Regions from separate parts of the Homo sapiens genome. Here region 1 is linked to region 2. The links come from fine-mapping of genetic effects on gene expression. A gene starts in region 2. The other region holds a variant in brackets. All regions are shown on one strand. Distances are from middle to middle. Region 1 overlaps GRB2 (growth factor receptor bound protein 2). Region 2 holds the start of MIF4GD (MIF4G domain containing).

Evidence for each region. PIP is the estimated chance that this variant, and not a neighbour inherited with it, causes the effect.
Region 1: its variant is fine-mapped to the expression of MIF4GD in whole blood (TwinsUK, PIP 0.95).

What each region holds. Positions count from the first base shown.
Region 1 is chr17:75,352,469-75,355,365 of GRCh38, reverse strand. The region is part of intron 2 of GRB2 (growth factor receptor bound protein 2); the gene reads left to right. Among named protein-coding and RNA genes, the nearest start is that of GRB2, 52 kb to the left of the region's middle. The variant C/ACCC (reference allele first, on the strand shown) is at 1,096.
Region 2 is chr17:75,270,108-75,273,004 of GRCh38, reverse strand. It overlaps MIF4GD (MIF4G domain containing), which reads left to right and starts at 1,774. Exons shown (of 6, transcript NM_001370592.1): 1 at 1,774-1,861; 2 at 2,760-2,891. The coding sequence starts at 2,810. It overlaps MIF4GD-DT (MIF4GD divergent transcript), which reads right to left and starts at 1,706. Exons shown (of 1, transcript NR_036520.1): 1 at 1-1,706. SLC25A19 (solute carrier family 25 member 19) reads left to right here. Exons shown (of 8, transcript NM_001126121.2): 8 at 1-13. RefSeq lists silencers at 348-397, 1,368-2,027, 2,138-2,207 and an enhancer at 72-859.

The DNA.
Region 1 (2,897 bases), 82 kb before region 2:
TTAAAGGGGAACAGAGAGATGAGGCAGTAGAGTCAAAAGAAGTCTGCTTTCACCCCACTCCCAGAGATGAGAGAAATGACAGCATTTTTATTTGTTGATTAGAAAAATCCAGTAGAGATTTTAATTAAAATTGATGATGCAGAAGAAAGGAAAATAACTGAGTTAATGTCCTTGAGCAGGCAAGAAGAGATGGGATTCAGCACCTTCGTAGAATTTTGTTTTGCTAGGAACAGGGACAAAAGTACGAGTACAGGTCCTGGCCAGGCGCGGTGGCTCACGCCTGTAATCCCAGCACTTTGGGAGGCCAAGGCAGGTGGATCACCTGAGGTCAGGAGTTCGAGACCAACCTGGCCTACATGGTGAAACCCCGTCTCTACTAAAAATACAAAAATTAGCCAGGCATGTTGGCATGTGCCTGTAATCCCAACTACTTGGGAGACTCCCGAAGTGCTGAGATTACAAGCATGAACTGTGCCCGGCCATAGATCTGTTTTTATTCACTATGGCTGGGTTCTCAGTGCGCCCTTCCTATCTGAAAATTCATATTCATCAGCTATGAGAAGTTAAGTTTTTCCTTTTTAAAAAACATTTCGTAGTGTCTTTTCTTCTATTTTCACTGTTCTCTTTCTGGAAGTTTGAATAATAGCTGTCACATCTTTTGGAAGACTGCAGTGGGCTCTTCCAGCAATTCTTGAATCCAGCAGTCCCCAACCTTTTTGCTACCAGGGACTGGTTTCATGGAAGACAATTTTTCCATGGAAGTGGGGGGTCGAGATGGTTCAGGATGACTGTTCAACCTCAGATCATCAGGCATTAGATTCTTACAAGGAGCGGGCAACCTAGATCCCTCGCGTGAGCAGTTTACAGTAGGGTTTGTGTTCCTACGAGAAGCACTGGCAATGTGGTGAAACCCCATCTCTACTAAAAATAGAAAAATTAGCCGGTTGTGGTGGCAGGCACCTGTAATCCCAGCTACTCAGGAGGCTGAGGCAGGAGAATCGCTTGAACATGGGAAGTGGAGGTTGTTGCAGTGAGCAGAGATCGCACCATTGCACTGCAGCCTGGGAGACAAGAGTGAAACTCCATCTCCCCCCC[C/ACCC]CCCCCAAAAAAAAAGACCATGAATAAACTTTGCTTGTACAACTCTGAATACCAGAAAACAATGTCTCTTCCAAGTTCTGAGGGAAAATGCTGTTCAGCCCAGGATTCTGTTGAAATCTATACCCAGCCGAAATAGCCTTCAAGTATAAACATAGAATCAAGACATTTCCAGACATGCAAGGACTCAAAACATTTGCCCCTCACGCACCCTTTCGTTTTTGTTTTTTTTTTGAGACAGAGTCTCGCTCTGTCACCCAGGCTGGAGTACAGTGGTGTGATCTCGGCTCACTGCAACCTCCGCCTCCCGGGTCCAAGCAATTCTCCTGCCTCAGCCTCCCAAGTAGCTGGGATTACAGGCATGCACCACCATGCTTGGCTAATTTTTTGTATTTTTAGTAGAGACGGAGTTTCTCCATGTTGGCCAGGCTGGTCTTGAACTCCTGACCTCAGATGATCCGCCTGCCTCGGCCTCCCAAAGTGCTGGGATTACAGGCATGAGCCACTGTACCTGGCCAGAATTTTTTTTGTTGTTGCCCAGGCTGGAGTGCAGTGGCGCAGTCTCGGCTCACTGCAACCTCTGCCTCCCAGGTTCAAGCGATTCTCCTGCCTCAGCCTCCTGAGTAGCTGGGATTACAGGCATGTGCCACCACACCTGGCGAATTTTTGTGTTTTTAGTAGAGGCGGGGTTTCACCGTGTTGTCAGGCTGGTCTTGAACCCCTGACCTCATGATCTGCCTGCCTTGGCCTCCCAAAGTGCTGGAATTACAGGTGTGAGCCACCGCGCCCGGTAAAAATGGTTTTTTTTTTAAGGGCATAGAAACTCGAGGAAATACAGAAGCCCAACCAGTAAAGGAAGTACAGTTGACCCTTGAGCAACAGAGGTTTGAGCTGCATGGTTCCGCTTATACACGGATTTTTTTCAGTCTACATGTGTGTCAAAAAGACAGTATTCACAGGATGCACAGCCCACTTACGCAGAGGGCCAACTGTGGGACTTGAGTATGCACAGATTTGGGTATATGCAGGGGTCCTGGAACCAGTCCCCCATGAATACAAGGTACAACTGTGTCTTTTTTTTTTTTTTTTGAGACGGAGTCTTGCTCTGTCGCCCAGGCTGAAGTGCAGTGGCGCGATCTCGGCTCACTGCAAGCTCCGCCTCCCGGGTTCACGCCATTCTCCTGCCTCAGCCTCCCGAGTAGCTGGGACTACAGGTGCCCGCCAGCACGCCCAGCTAATTTTTTGTATTTTTAGTAGAGACAGGGTTTCACTATGTTAGCCAGGATGGTCTCGATCTCCTGACCTTCTGATCCACCCACCTCGGCCTCCCAAAGTGCTGGGATTACAGGCGTGAGCCACTGTGCCTGGCCAACTATGTCTTTTAAAAAAAAAAAAAAAACAAGTTAACTTTTTCTCCCAGAGAACGGTCTTGTGAGCTTGATGATGAAAATTCAACTAGAGAAAACTGGAAATTTTGGTGCTAGTCAGTTCAGAGTTGATAGCCTTAATCATTATTGATTTATTATACATAGACATCCGTGACATTAAAACACTTTTACTGCATAGAGGGGATCATAAAGGCTGAGTGATACCAGGCTGTAGCTGCAAACAGTAGGGATATCTTAGTTGTCACATAATATGTCTGATCGCTTTTCTCCTTTGGGAAACTACTTGTCATTGTGAGCAGGAGAATGAACCGTTTATGCCTGGTCACCCTTCCATTTCCAGGGAGCGTGGATGTTCTGTTGGTACTGGGGCCTGACCCAGAATCATGGGATTGTACACACATTTCTCCTTTAAGCACA
Region 2 (2,897 bases):
AGCTAAACACACATTCCTTATCTTACTCCATCTCCCCTGGCACATCTGCCTACTCACAAAGTATGAGGGAAAGGACTCCTGCCTTCCTCAAATCCCATGTTCTCCATAGCGGCAGCCCTTGGCAGCTCTGCTTCTAGTGCTGGGGGAGACTCCAGGCTGAGCCAGTCACTTTCTGGGCCCCGTGCCCAGACCTTCGTGTCTGCAGACACACCACCACCCAGGCTGTCCTCTCCCAGGACCGGGCTGGTCATGGCCGTGGGGCTCCATGGAAAGCAGATCCCAGCGCCCGTGCAGGAAGTGGATGGGCCATGCTGTGGGCAGGCGTGGGTGAAGGTGCAGCCTCTCCCCAGTCTACCTCACTGACTCCTCTTTCACCCAGAGCTGGGTCAGCCTTGCTGGGTGAGGAGCTATCAGCAGGACAGGTGGCATCAGCGCCCACTGCCTGCTCCTCAGTGCAGAGCATGCTGCGGGTGCATCCTCCCCTGTAGCCCCAGAAGGGCCGTGGCTCTGAAGCAGCCCACTGATGGGGATGGCAGAAGGAAGGGGCGGGCACGTAGCCTGGTGAGGGCACAGCTGGTGCCTGGGGTGTTACCAGAGCAGAGGGACACCCACAGGCGGAGAGGCAGAGGAGAAACCAGTTCCAGGCTGAGGGGAGGTCTCCAGAACATGACCTCCACCCTTCCCTCCATCTGCCCGGCCTGTAGGGTTGCTCCGACCTGGGAAGCCCTCCATTCTGCCTCCCTCTCCAGCCTTGGAAAGAGGCACCCACTGGGAGCCGGCGCTGGCCCTGGCCCTGGCGTGTGGGTCCTGGGCTCCTCCTCGCACCATCCTTCCCTGCCTCTGGTCTGGGATTTTGGGGTCTGTCTGGGCCCTGAATGCTGGGGCTTCCTGGCTCTGGGCTGCTGGTTCCCAAGGTCCAGGCTGCGGCGGGGGCCACGAGGATGCAGCTGCCTGAATGCATTTTTTATGAAATTCCGTTAAAGTTTCTTCTCTTCATCTTTCCTGCCCATTGGTTTCTTTTGCTGCAGCTGAGCGTTCTCTTCCTCCTCCGTTTTCGGTGACCACTTTGGCGGTTCTTTTAAAAGGAGGCGAGAACGCGGGCAGCGCCGGCAGCGCTCCTCCCGGTCGCGCGGCAGGAGCGGCGGCAGTTCTTCCCCCACTTCTAGGTGCCCTCCTGTCACCCAGGGCAGACGCCGGGCGGTGGGGTCCGCGCCACTTCAGGGGCATTCGCAACAACCGACGGCCGCGAGTTGCCAATGGGGCCCCTTTCTCGGGGCTGCCCCTATGACCTGAAACTCGCTTCGCCCATGTCCTCCTTGGAGCGGGAGAGGGTTGTGGCTGGCCCCGGCCCTGCAGCCCCTGCCTTCTCTACCTGGGTTGGGGGAGCGGGGAAAGTGGTGCGACCAGGGCTGATGCTGTTCCTCCTGCCACCAGGTCCCCACCACGCGCTCTGCAGGCTCTTCCCACGCCGCGCAGCCCAGCGGTGTCTCCCGGCCCAGTGCACCTGAGCTCCGGGGAGGGCTGGGTGCGGGGCCACGCGCAAGATCGAGGTGCCGGCGGGTCCGGCGTGGGCCCGGACACGGCCCAGGCGCACCGGGTGAAGGGGTGACGAGCCAAGCGAGTTCCGCTTGCGGCTGGGTGGCAGCGTCGCAGGGTCCCACGCAGGCGGCGCGGCTTCCGGGGCGGCCTGGAGGCCAGGGCAGTGCCCCGGGGGCCCGGCAGGTGGCGCGGGCGAGCCGACCCTTCCCCGGCGCCGCGCGAGGAGATGAGCTCACGGCGGGCCCCGCAGCGCCGGACGCTGGTTGCGCGCTCCCAGGCGCCGAGCGGCCCCGGGCACGCGCGCGCGCCACCGGCCCGGCAGGTGGGTCCCGGCTCCCACGCCGCCTCTCCCGCCCGCGGGACCCTGGGCCGTGGGCTCCGCAGCCCGCCCTGTGCCTCCGGGAGGGGCGTTCCGGGCGCGGGGGGAACGGCCGAGGGCTGGAGACCCTAAAGGCGCCTCCTACGGCCAGAGGGGAGCCTCCGGCGGGAGCCACCTCTCCGGGGCGCATCATCCTGCCCCCCAGTAAGAGGAAGGCTCCAGAATGGAGCTCAGGAATTAGGAGTCTCGAGTGCGTAGGGCCGGGTTACTGCCACTCGGGAGCCGATCCGACCAGCCTGTCCCAGGGAGAAGCTGGCACGGGTCTGGGGAGTTCAGGCTGCTCCCGGCAGGGGCGGCGGACAGGGCGCCTGCGTCCCCACCCACGCAGGCCGGCCCCATCCGGGGGATGCAGCGGCGGGTGTTGAGACCGAAGGACTCGGCGAAAGCCAGAAAGAGAGGGTTGGGGAGAGGGGCTCGGAGACCTGCTGGGGACAGAGTCGCACCGCTTGGAGTTCCCAGCCTGGCCCTCACCCGGCATCTTCCTGGGCCAGCAACGTCAGGCCGGTTTATTTAAGCAACTGTAACGTCCGCCCGCACACACCCTGCCCCAGTCTACTCCTGCCTCCTGCTGGGACTGGAGGGTGGGCGCTTTCCTGCTTCAGCTTCTCGCTCTTGTGTAATCCCACAAGCGAGGGATTTCTAAACTGAGCAGCAGGTGCCTGGCTGATGCCCAGTCCCCACCAGAAGCCAAGCCTGGTGGGCCTTCAGCCAACCACCGCACGCCACGGACCGCCCAGGAGTCCCTGTCCCGAGCGCGCCGTCAGCCCCGTCCAGGGCCTGCAGGACGGAACCCGCCCTGCGCTCCACACCTGAGGCCGCTCCCTTCGCCTCTTCTCCTCAGGTGCTGTCCTTATTCCCAGCCCAGTCAAGAGCTACCGGGGCTGGCTAGTCATGGGGGAGCCCAGTAGAGAGGAGTATAAAATCCAGTCCTTTGATGCAGAGACCCAGCAGCTGCTGAAGACAGCACTCAAAGGTGAGC